Regions from separate parts of the Homo sapiens genome. Here region 2 is linked to region 1. Evidence: fine-mapped expression QTL. A gene starts in region 1. The other region holds a variant in brackets. All regions are shown on one strand. Distances are between the middles of the regions. Region 1 holds the start of GPR55 (G protein-coupled receptor 55). Region 2 overlaps SPATA3-AS1 (SPATA3 antisense RNA 1).

Region 1 (5,371 bases):
ACCCCTGCTGCCCCAGTGGGTCTGTCACATGCTGCCCCTGTGCCAAGCGTGTGTTCCCTGGGACCCCGGGGCGGCCCGTGCCCCTGGTTCCTGCCTGGCCAGCTTCCAGCCTCGGCTCCTGCCATTCCCCCCTTACCCTGGTGCAGAGGGTGCCCGGGCCCTCACCAACCCCGTGCCCCTCCTGCCTGTGCCTGCACCTGGGCTGCCCTCCTCCAGCATCCTCCTCCCTCCCCGTGTCTCTTAGGGTTCAGCTCTTGCCCCTGCCCCTGTTCCCTGACCAGCTCTCTGGGGCAGGCTTGGGAGCACTTCTTGCACAGCTCTGGGCCAAGTGGTCACCCTGCAAACCCCCTGGTGGGCAGGTTTCCCCCCTTGGAGGGAAAGGATGCCCCACGAGGGCAGGGCCAGGCCTCTGGCTGCTGAAGGAGCGAATTTCACCAGCGTCAGGGGAGGATGTGGTGAGCGCCCAGCTATCCTGGACCCGCTCTTTGATAAACACAGTCAGATTCACTTGTTCCTTGCCCTAGAAGAAGCTGGTTCCTGAAGCTCCGAAGCTGCTCCACTGGTGAAGTCGAAGGTGTGTGCCCCCAAACCCCCCAACTCGGGGCTCCCAGCCTGGAAGACAGGCAGGGACCTGCCCAGGCTCCCAAAACCTCCAAGTGATTCTGGATGGTGAGAGGGTGGGCAGGACTAGGGGGAGAAGTTTCAGGAGGCTTAAGGGAAATTTTCTGAGAAAGGTCTTCCTATTTATGACTCCCCAGGCCTGTGGCAAGGGGAGGCGAAAAGCTCGAGGGACAGGCCTGAGCCTTAGGACGGGGCCTTGGGCGAGTCCCTGCCTAGCCTTGCTCTTAGGAGCTCAAACCTTTGAGTCTCTCTGGAGACGTATCTTGGCAAGGGATCCCCCATATACCTTGGATATCCCCCAAGGTATCCAAGGGATACCCACAGGAGAGGGAGGTGGACAATGCCTTCTACTGCAGAGCAGCTCGTGTGGTCTCTAGCTTCTGTGTCAAAAGAGGGAGAAAATAAGAGCTCAGGTGTACACGGGCGGGCACAGAAACTCTGGAAGAAACTTAACAGTGGTGCCCTGGGGGGTAGGTGAGAGCTGGATTTAGGAGTGGGACAGATATTTTCCTATATGTGTTTACATATGTATTTGAATCATGTGCATGTTTTCAAAAATTTAAAAATTTAAAAATTTTAATATTGCAACAGCAATAAAGTAGAAATATTCATTTCTTAAAAGAAGGTAGCCAGGGCCGGGAGCGGTGGCTCACATCTGTAATCCTAACACTTTGGGAGGCCGAGGTGGGTGAATCACGAGGTCGGGAGTTCAAGACCAGCCTGACCAACATGGTGAAACCTTGTCTCTACTAAAAATACGAAAAAAGTTAGTCGGGCCTGGTGGCACAAGCCTGTAATCCCAGCTACTCAGGAGGCTGAGGCAGGAGAATCACTTGAACCCGGGAAGTGGAGGTTGCAGTGAGCCAAGATAGTGCCACTGCACTGCAGCCTGGGCAACAGAGCGAGACTCTGTATCAAAAAAAAAAAAAAAAAAAAAAAAAGAAGGTAGCCAGAATGGGAGTAGACAAGGCTCCCTTTGAGAAGGGGCTGAGCAGAGACACTGCTCCCTGCAGGCCACTCAGTGTGGATGCCTTCCTGGGGCCTCACATTGCAGGCTCTGGGTATGGAGGTGGGTGCCAGACACCGGTGTGTTTCCTCCCTGCTACTGTCCCAGCAGGCTCCTGGCCTCCTCCCGCACCCAGGGTGCGGGCCTGGCTGCCCCCCCTTGCCCAGTAGCCAGCCTTTGGCTTAGATTGGGCTGGTGGCCCAGTAGGGGGGCCTCGCTGGGGGCAGGACTGCCCTGTGCCCTGTCTTGGCACCCAGGCCAGCTTGGGGCTCCACGGCCTGGAGCAGGCAGTGGACTTGGCACTGCCCATCGCACAAGCCCAGGTGAGAGCTTAAAAGTTGTCATGGTTCCATCAACCTCTTCACCAGACAGTGGGAAGACCCAGCTCCAGAGGGCCAGGTGGTTCCCCTGCAGTGACTTGCAAGGTGTTATTTACAGAGGGGACCCATGTGTTGGATGAATCATCCAAAAAACCCAGGAGTAGTTTCTATTCCTGTAGACACCTGAAAGTCCCAGCACGCATAGCTTTTAAAAATTGCTTGTGTTTGGTCCTCCGACAGGGCCTCCCAGCACCTCCAGGGCATGAGAGCTGCATCTGCCGGGGTAGTTTCAGCCCAGACTTTCCTGATGGGCTGGAATCTATGAGGGCTCCCAGCTAAGAGCCACCCAGGCCCACGGGTGAGTCTCAGCCCTCCCAGCCCTGAAGGTGGGAGATGCCAGGGAAATCTCTGCTTGCAGGGCCCTAGGAAGCCACAGGCCCAAGGCTGCCCCAAATCTCTGTGCAGGCCTGGGACAGAGAAGCCGAGGCTGGGGAACCTGTGGGGCCCCACTGACCATTCTTGCAGACACACATGCAGTGGCTGAGGTCTCCTCCGACGCTAGGCACGCAAGTCCTAACCTGCAAGTACTAAATAGCACCACCTTCCTTTCCTTTCTGTGGGCAGCAGTTTCAAATCCTAAACCCCCAAAGTGCTGGAAGCCACGACGGCCCTTGGCAGGTGCTGAGAATGGCTGCCCCTGTGTGGTGCCCCTGTTAGGGTGTCTGGGGTGCGTAGGAGGCTTCCTCCTCCAGAGGCTTCCCAGGGCTTGACACATGCAGTGTGATTTTTGGCTTTTTGGTTTTTTGTTTTGTTTTTTGGAGCTGCGGGAGGGGGGCGTGCAGATCTTCCAAGAGGGCGGGAGAGTGTAGACCCTCCTCCTGGAAACTGCTCCCCATGTCCACACTCTAGTTCCACACAGCCTCTCTGTAGACCCCAGAGCAAGAGCCCCTAAGCCAGACAGGGTGACACTGGAGCGGCTCAAAGAGCATCTGGTCCCACCCCTTTATTTCACTCACAAGGAAGTCGAGACCCAGAGAGGGGAAGTGACTCTCCCCAGAACAGGCTGACAGCCAGGCCTGGAGGAGAAATGACATCTCTCAGCCCTCTCAGCTGCACCGGACCACCAACAGGTAACAGCCTCTGGGCCATTTAGAGAAACTAAGGCACGGAGCCTCCAACCTGACCTTGCTCTTGTGGACTGCAGGTAACTCTCCTAAGATCAGTGGGGCTTGTGTGGGCCTGGGCTTTGTGCACACCTGTCCCAACTCAGCGAGCAGTCCCAGGTGTCAGGGCAGCGGCAGCCTCCAGGCAGCCTCCGTGACAGCAGCAGCGGCAGGCAGACCTGGTTTGTCCCCGATTACGAGTGACATTTTTCTACGAACCCTCAACTTCCTCCTGATCTGACTCAGGGTTGCAGCATCATGTCGGGTCGGGAAACCTCCCCATAGGCAGCCTGGGAGCCTTCCCGGGGCATGTAGCTCACGTGCCACCGCCCTCCACCAAGCCCGCCGCCCATTCCCCAGAATCTTGTTGGGAAACCACCAAGCGCCCGAGATGACACACTCTCAGGGATCATCCTGCAGCCCTGAGCAAGTGCTTACTGGGGACCAGAAGGAGCCTGGGAGCCCAGGCTCACCCACTCACCAGCTGCGTAATTTCTCTAGCCTCCGTTTACCTCTCTGGGGCATGAGGCAATACACGGTTTCTTCCTCACGGGGCGCTCAAGGGCAGTAAATGATGGAGAGGAAAGCCCTGGTTGCTATCCTACATTATAGCTGCATTGTTCTCTAACCCTAGCCAAGTGTCTCTTGGAGAGGCTGGGCGGGAAGACACAGCAGCACTTAGAACCCTGAACATTCTAGATTCTTCCCTGAGAGTGAGAACACAAAGTCAGGACATGTCTGGCTGGCCTGGCTTCACCTGGGCTTTGTGCTGCCCGAGGCAGTGGGGATGAGAGGACAGGGCAGGGCAAAGTGCCGCCCACAGCTCTGTGGAAGGCAAGGTTTGCCTTTGGTTCTGAGCGGCTGTCCCAGCTGTAAAGGGAGCACCAGTCACTGTGGAGCTGCAGCAGACCTGGCCATTTGTTCCGTCATTTCTTCACCCCCTCTTTCATGCAATAAGACCTTCCCAACGACAAACTGTATGTGAGGCTCGGTGATAAAGGTGAAAGGGACATGGTCCTGGTCCTGGGGTTGCTGGAGGACAGCAGGGACACGCTCCCCCTGGGATACACAGAGGACTTTTCAAGGCACCCACTCAGGACTGCACTGGGAAAACCACATCAGATGATGTGGGTGAACCTGGGAAGTGGGCATTTCAAGGAAGAGGTGGGATTTTTAGCAGTGGAGGAGAGAGTCCAAGGAGAAAGAGGAGCATGAGCATGCAAAGAAGTGAGGAGGGGGCTTGGCAACTCCTGGATCCCAGATGCTCTTGCTTGTGATGCTGATGGGGGCCAGGGTGAGCGAGGAGGAGAGACTCAGAACATGAGTTCCAGCTGGTCCCTCACGGCCTTTTTGACCTTGGGTAGAATCTTTAACATCTCTAAGCCTTACTGTCCTTATCTGTAAAATGGGCATAATTAGGGCAATCTCCTAGGAGTGTCCTGAGTTCCCATCGTAGATCACTGAGCACACTGCTGGCCACCTTTCACGTCCCCAAGCCGGCCCCTCCCCTCTCCCAGCCCCACTCCAACCCCCCAGCCCAAGCTCCAGCAACATTCAGGCATTGGGGAGATTGTGGTCATGTGCTCTGTCCCCTCTGTGTCCTGTTCCTTCTTCTATCGTGGCCCCCAGAAGCCCAGCTCAGGCACAGGCGGATGACTTTATTCACACTATGGTGTTACTGGTGGATACGCTGTGTATTCTAACTGCGGCATTTTTGGGGGAGTATTCCAGGGCTCCTCAAATCCATCCCTGCGGCTGTGCCAATGCTGCTTTTTTAGGCTCTGGCCCTGCCATCTCTGAGGTGGCTCACGCTGCAATGCTCTGTGCAGATAACAGCCTGGCAGCTGCAGGAAGGGCCACCTTCTCAGTTGCAACCCTCCTTAGGGTTGTGATCTTCTTGTTGCTTGTGTTCTCTGGAAAGTCCAGGCCACAGAGGGAAGAAAGGTAGGTCTGGTGTGGAGCCACATAGCTGGGTTTCGAGGTCTCAGCTGTGCAGGCAAAGCCACAGGGCTGCCGCAAGTGGGACACTGGATCCTTGAGGGTGTGGGCGGATGAGGGTACCATGGACCACTGGCAGTTGCGGGAATCCCAGCTGCAGAATGTGTAGAGTCAGCAATTAAGAACCAGCACAGGCCGGGTGCTCGGGCTCACGCCTGTAATCCCAGCAGTTTGGGAGGCAGAGGCAAGAGGATTGCTCGATCCCAGAAATTTGAGGCCAGCCTGGGCAACACAGTAAGACCTTGTCTCTACAAAAAATAAAA
Region 2 (5,371 bases), 57 kb before region 1:
CCCCACAAGAATCTGGGACTTTGCAGAACCGGTCCAAGGTGAGAGTAGGATTAATTGCCAAATGAGTTTTCTCATAAGCCTGGGGTCCAAAGTACATTGGACAGCCAGCAAATGCTTATGAGGGGTTTGAACAAGTGAAATCAAGGCTCAAGGTCATAGGACTCAATGGAGAGTGAGGCAGCTGGGATCTGGGATGACCGGCATGGGCCTCAAAGCAGGGGGCTTGGAAATAGGCCCTGAAGAGGGGGTCGCTTGCGTGGCTAGGAAGGGGTTGGGGCCCACTAGCATTTCTCAGAATGCCTATTTTCTTCGGCAGTGAGAGCTGGAGGGAGGGATGGGTTTCTCAGCACAGTTCCAGTATGAGTGGCTGTCACCACAGGGCGCCATTGCCAAGTCAGAAAGAAACAAAGCTTAACCGCTGCCTCCTGTCCCCCATGGTCTGTGAAAGTCTCATACTGTAGTGCGTCTAATGGTGGCCCCCCAAAAGATACATCTACATTATAATTCCTGGGACCCAGAAATGTGACCTTATTTGGAAAAAGGGTCTTTGACCTTATTTGGAAAAAGCGTCTTTACAAATGTAAGTGACCTTATTTGGAAAAAGTGTCTTTACAAATGTAATTTACAACATTGAATGAGCACCTGCTCTGTGTGGAGCTCCCTATGTGGCCCAGGCTGGTCTTAAGGATCGTGTGTGTGTGTGTGTGTGTGTGTGTGTGTGTGTGTGAGAGAGATAGGGTCTCACTGTGTCATCCAGGCTGGAAGGCAGTGGCACAATCACGGCTCACTGCAGCCTCAACCTCCCAGGCTCAAGCGATCCTCTGGCCTCAGCCTCCCGAGTAGCTGGGACTAGGGTTGCACACCACCACTCCTGGTTAATTTTTTGTGTGTATTTTTTGTAGAGACGAGGTCTCCCTAAGTTGCCCACGCTGGTCTTGAACTCCTGGGCTCAAGTGACCCACCTGCCTCGGCCTCTCAAAATGCTGAGATTATAGGCATGAGCCACTGTGCCCGGTTCAAGTTAAAGATCTTGAGATGAAATGATTCTTGGGATCATTATCTTGGACGGATTGTAAATCCCAGGATGAATGTCCTTATATGAGACGCGCAGAGGAGAGACACAGAGATGGAAGAGGAGAAGGCCATGTGAAGGCAGAGGCAGCGACTTGAGAGTTGCAGCCACAAGCCAGGATGGCCTGGAAGAGGCAGGAGCAGACTCTTCTTAGAGCCTCCAGAGGGAGTGTGGCCCTGCTGACACCTTGATCTTGGACCCTTGGCCCATCAGAGCTGTAAGAGAGTAAGTTTCTGCTGTTTGAGGTCATCTGCTGCAGGAGCCCCCAGGAACAAATACACCTCCCAATCCCATTTTTAATTCCCGAGGGTTTGCACCCCCAGGACACTTCTTCCACACATGCCCTGTTGTGCTCCGTATTGCCCTGTGTCCATTTGGAAGTGGGACTCCATCCTGTTGATACGTTCCACATAAAATATACTTGTACCAAAAATGTCTTGTTTTTAGGAGACTGTGGGGGATGGGAGTTGGGGGAAGGGTTCCATTTTCCAGGGCAATTATAGCTGTCCCTCAGTATCCTAAAGGGTTTGGTTCCAGGACTCCTGCAGGTACCAAAATTCAAGGATGTCCAAGTCTCTGATATAAAATGGCATAGTATTTGTAAATAACCTATGCACATTCTCCTGTATACTTTAAATCATCTCTAGATTATTTGTAATACCTAATACAATGTAAGTGCTGTGTAAATAGTTATTGTACTGTATTAGTTTTAAAATTTGTGTTATTTATTATTATTATTTTGAGACAGAGTCTCGCTCTGTCGCCAGGCTGGAGTGCAGTGGCATGATCTTGGCTCACTGTACCCTCCGCCTTCCAGGTTCAAGCGATTCTCCTGCCTCAGACTCCTGAGGAGCTGGGACTACAGGTGCATGCCACCACGCCCAGCTAATTTTTGTATTTTTAGTAGAGATGGGGTTTCACCATGTTGGCCAGGATGGTCTCGATCTCTTGACCTCATGATCCTCCCACCTTAGCCTCCCAAAGAGCTGGGATTACAGATGTGAGCCACCGTGCCTGGCCTATTGTTGCTATTATTAAAAAAAAAATTTGGAGATGAGGTCTCAGTCTGTTGCCCAGGCTGGAGTGTAGTGACATGATTATGGCTCACTGCAGCCTCAAACTCCTGGACTCAAGCTATCCTGCCACCTCAGCCTGCCGAGTAGCTGAGACTACAGGTTCGTGCCACCACACCTGGCTAATTTTTGTTTTTTTGGTTTTTGTAGAGCTGTGATCTCATTATGTGTTGTCCAGGCTGGTCTCAAACTCCTGGCCTCAAGTGATCCTCCCACCACAGTGCTGGGATGGCAGGTGTGAGCCACTGTGTCTGGCCTGTTGTTATTTTTAAATTGCTTTTCTTTTTTCAAATATTTTTGATCCATGGTTGATTGAAATCTTGGATGTGGAACCAGGGGGTAACTGAGGGCGAATTGCACTGGGCTTT[C/T]CCTTGACTAAATTTGGGCAAAATAAAATGATCTCTAACCTTTGTAAAGCTAATCAGACACCTCTAGGGTAGCAAATCCTAAAAGAAAAAGATCAGGCATATGAGTGCGTGTGTGTGTGCACGTGTATCTGTGTTGCCAAGCTGTTCCCTCCCCCACCCCCACCACTTTGCTTTTGGAGGCAAAGGAAAGGCACCCTCCTGGCTAGCAGGCCAGATGAGCCTTGTCACCTGGGGGATAGGATGCGACCCAGATCTGCTCCTGAGCACAAAGATGAGCAAAATCAAAGGAAATTGCATGAGACTGAAGACCTTCTGTGTGGTCCTCCTGGGAGTGGCAGAAGTTTCTGGTGGAGGCGCAAAACAGGCCCCTGCTACACATAACTTCCATAACCACCAATCCACAGGCAATCCACCCACCCACACCACATCCCAGGCCTCTCCTTTCCGTGCCTGACCTGTGCTCCCGTGGCCTGCATGGGTGTGAGTCGCCTCTTTCTCCACTGCAGGCCTCTTCCAGGATGTCCTGGTGAAGAACACCACTGCCTGTCCAATTATACTAGTCAGAACCCTGGGAGTGTCTCTTGACACTCCTTCTCATCGTCCGCCAAACCCAGCCCATCCCCAAAGCCTGTTGATTGTATTTCCTGCTTGTCACACAAATGCCACCAGCTTTGATGGGCACCTTGTTCCTCCCCTTTGTGGTACTTGTCACAGTTGCAATTTGCCTGTGAGCTCCGCAGAAGACAGATGCCACGGCTGCTTATTCCTTGTCGTGTCCCTGGTTCCTAAAACAGTGCCTCGTGCATCACTGGTGTTCAATAAATACTTGCCAAATCATTGAATAAATAAGCAAATGAATGAAGGAATGCAGTTTTGAGTGAGGATGGTGTTGAAAAGGAATAAAGCCTTCCCCAGTAGTGCCTGAGGTCCATGTAAGAATGTCCTAGATGATAAGACAGGAGACACACGGGCGTGGTAGATGGGCTCTCCCCACCCCTCCCCATAAGAGTGCAAAGCTGGGACAAGCCAGAGGCTTCACAGGCCTGGTAACTGGGGGGTAGGGTTTGGTGATTCCTACCCAGGGCTGGGGGCATCGGGAGGCTCTTCCTCTCTACCTGGACTGTGTTTACCAGGTGTGTTTCCCATTCATTATTTTCCAGTGGGTACTGGGTTCAAAGTTTCTATAAGCAGTGGGGGCTTTGAGGTTCGAGGAAAGTGTAGTATAGCTTTCTCTTCCTTTTAGGAAGATTTCTGTTTTTCTTTTTCTTTTTTTTTTTTTTTTTTTGAGACAGAGTCTTGCTCTGTCACCCCAGCTGGAGTGCAGTGGCATGATCGAGGCTCACTCCAACCTCCGCCTCCCAGGTTCAAGTGATTCTTGTGCCTCAGACTCCTGAGTAGCTGGGATTACAGACATGAGCCTCTGCACCCGTCCTAGGAAGATTTCAAAACGAAGATGAGTCTATTGTAATTTAGAGGGCCATTTTAAACTCCCTGTGTTGGTGGCAGATGGTTTGGGTCTGGCAGCTAGCTCTATCCCAACCTTCTCTATCCACCCTGCAACTCCCTCCCCTCCCCCTCACATTTTATTTTGAAATTTTCAAACATTCTGAAAAGTTCAAAGAAGAGTACAATGAACTTACCCTGGATTCTCCAACTGTTAACATTTTGCCACAATTGCTTTGTCTCTGTTGGTCTCTCTCTGTCTTTGTATATTTCCACATACTTTTATTTTGCTGAGCAATTTGAAAGCAAGTTGCTGACATCTTGACACTTCACTTCTAGATATCTCAGCATCTCCTAATAAGGATATTCTCCCACAAAACCACAATACCATGATCACAACCATAATAGCACCCAGTGTACTATCTGTATTCAAATCTCTACAGTTGTCCCCGGAAGAGCTTTTAATGCTGGATTTTTTTTTCCTATCCAGGATCCAATCAAGATCATGTATGATATTTGGTTGTTATGGCTCTTCAGTCTCTTTTCATCTGAAACAGTCTTTCACCTTTTTATTGTTGTTGTTGTTCTTTGTTTATGTGAAATTAGTTTTTGATAAAGAGTCCAGGACAGTTGTCTTGTAGAGTGTCCCATATGTGGGTTAATCTGATTGCTTACACAAGATTAGATGCAGGTTGAATATCTTTGGCCAGAGTTCTGTACTGCATAGGTGCCACTGTAGACTTCTCAGTCAAGTATCACATCTGGAGTAAATAATGTCAATATCACATCTGGAGTAAATAATGTCAGGCATCACAACTGGAGTAAATAATGTCAGTATCACATCTGGAGTAAATAATGTCAGTATCACATCTGGAGTAAATAATGTCAGTATCATATCTGGAGTAAATAATGTCAGTTATCACATCTGGAGTAAATAATGTCAGGCATCACATCTGGAGTAAATAATGTCAGGCATCACATCTGGAGTAAATAATGTCAGGCATCACATCTGGAGTAAATAATGTCAATATCACATCTGGAGTAAATAATGTCAGTTATCACATCTGGAGTAAATAATGTCAGTTATCACATCTGGAGTAAATAATGTCAGTTATCACATCTGGAGTAAATAATGTCAGGTATCACATCTGGAGTAAATAATGTCAGTATCACATCTGGAGTAAATAATGTCAGTATCACATCTGGAGTAAATAATGTCAGTATCACATCTGGAGTAAATAATGTCAGGCATCACATCTGGAGTAAATAATGTCAGGTATCACATCTGGAGTAAATAATGTCAGTATCACATCTGGAGTAAATAATGTCAATATCACATCTGGAGTAAATAATGTCAGGTATCACATCTGCAGTAAATAATGTCAGTATCACACCTGGAGTAAATAATGTCAGGC

What was found.
Region 2: its variant is fine-mapped to the expression of GPR55 in whole blood (TOPMed, PIP 0.94).

The regions. Positions count from the first base shown.
Region 1 is chr2:230,922,874-230,928,244 of GRCh38, reverse strand. It overlaps GPR55 (G protein-coupled receptor 55), which reads left to right and starts at 3,003. Exons shown (of 2, transcript NM_005683.4): 1 at 3,003-3,077. RefSeq lists a silencer at 1,567-1,746 and enhancers at 1,967-2,196, 3,017-3,066, 3,187-3,306, 2,870-3,658.
Region 2 is chr2:230,979,638-230,985,008 of GRCh38, reverse strand. It overlaps SPATA3-AS1 (SPATA3 antisense RNA 1), which reads left to right. Exons shown (of 6, transcript NR_033879.1): 6 at 1-641. Among named protein-coding and RNA genes, the nearest start is that of SPATA3-AS1, 14 kb to the left of the region's middle. RefSeq lists an enhancer at 3,120-3,259. The variant C/T (reference allele first, on the strand shown) is at 2,514.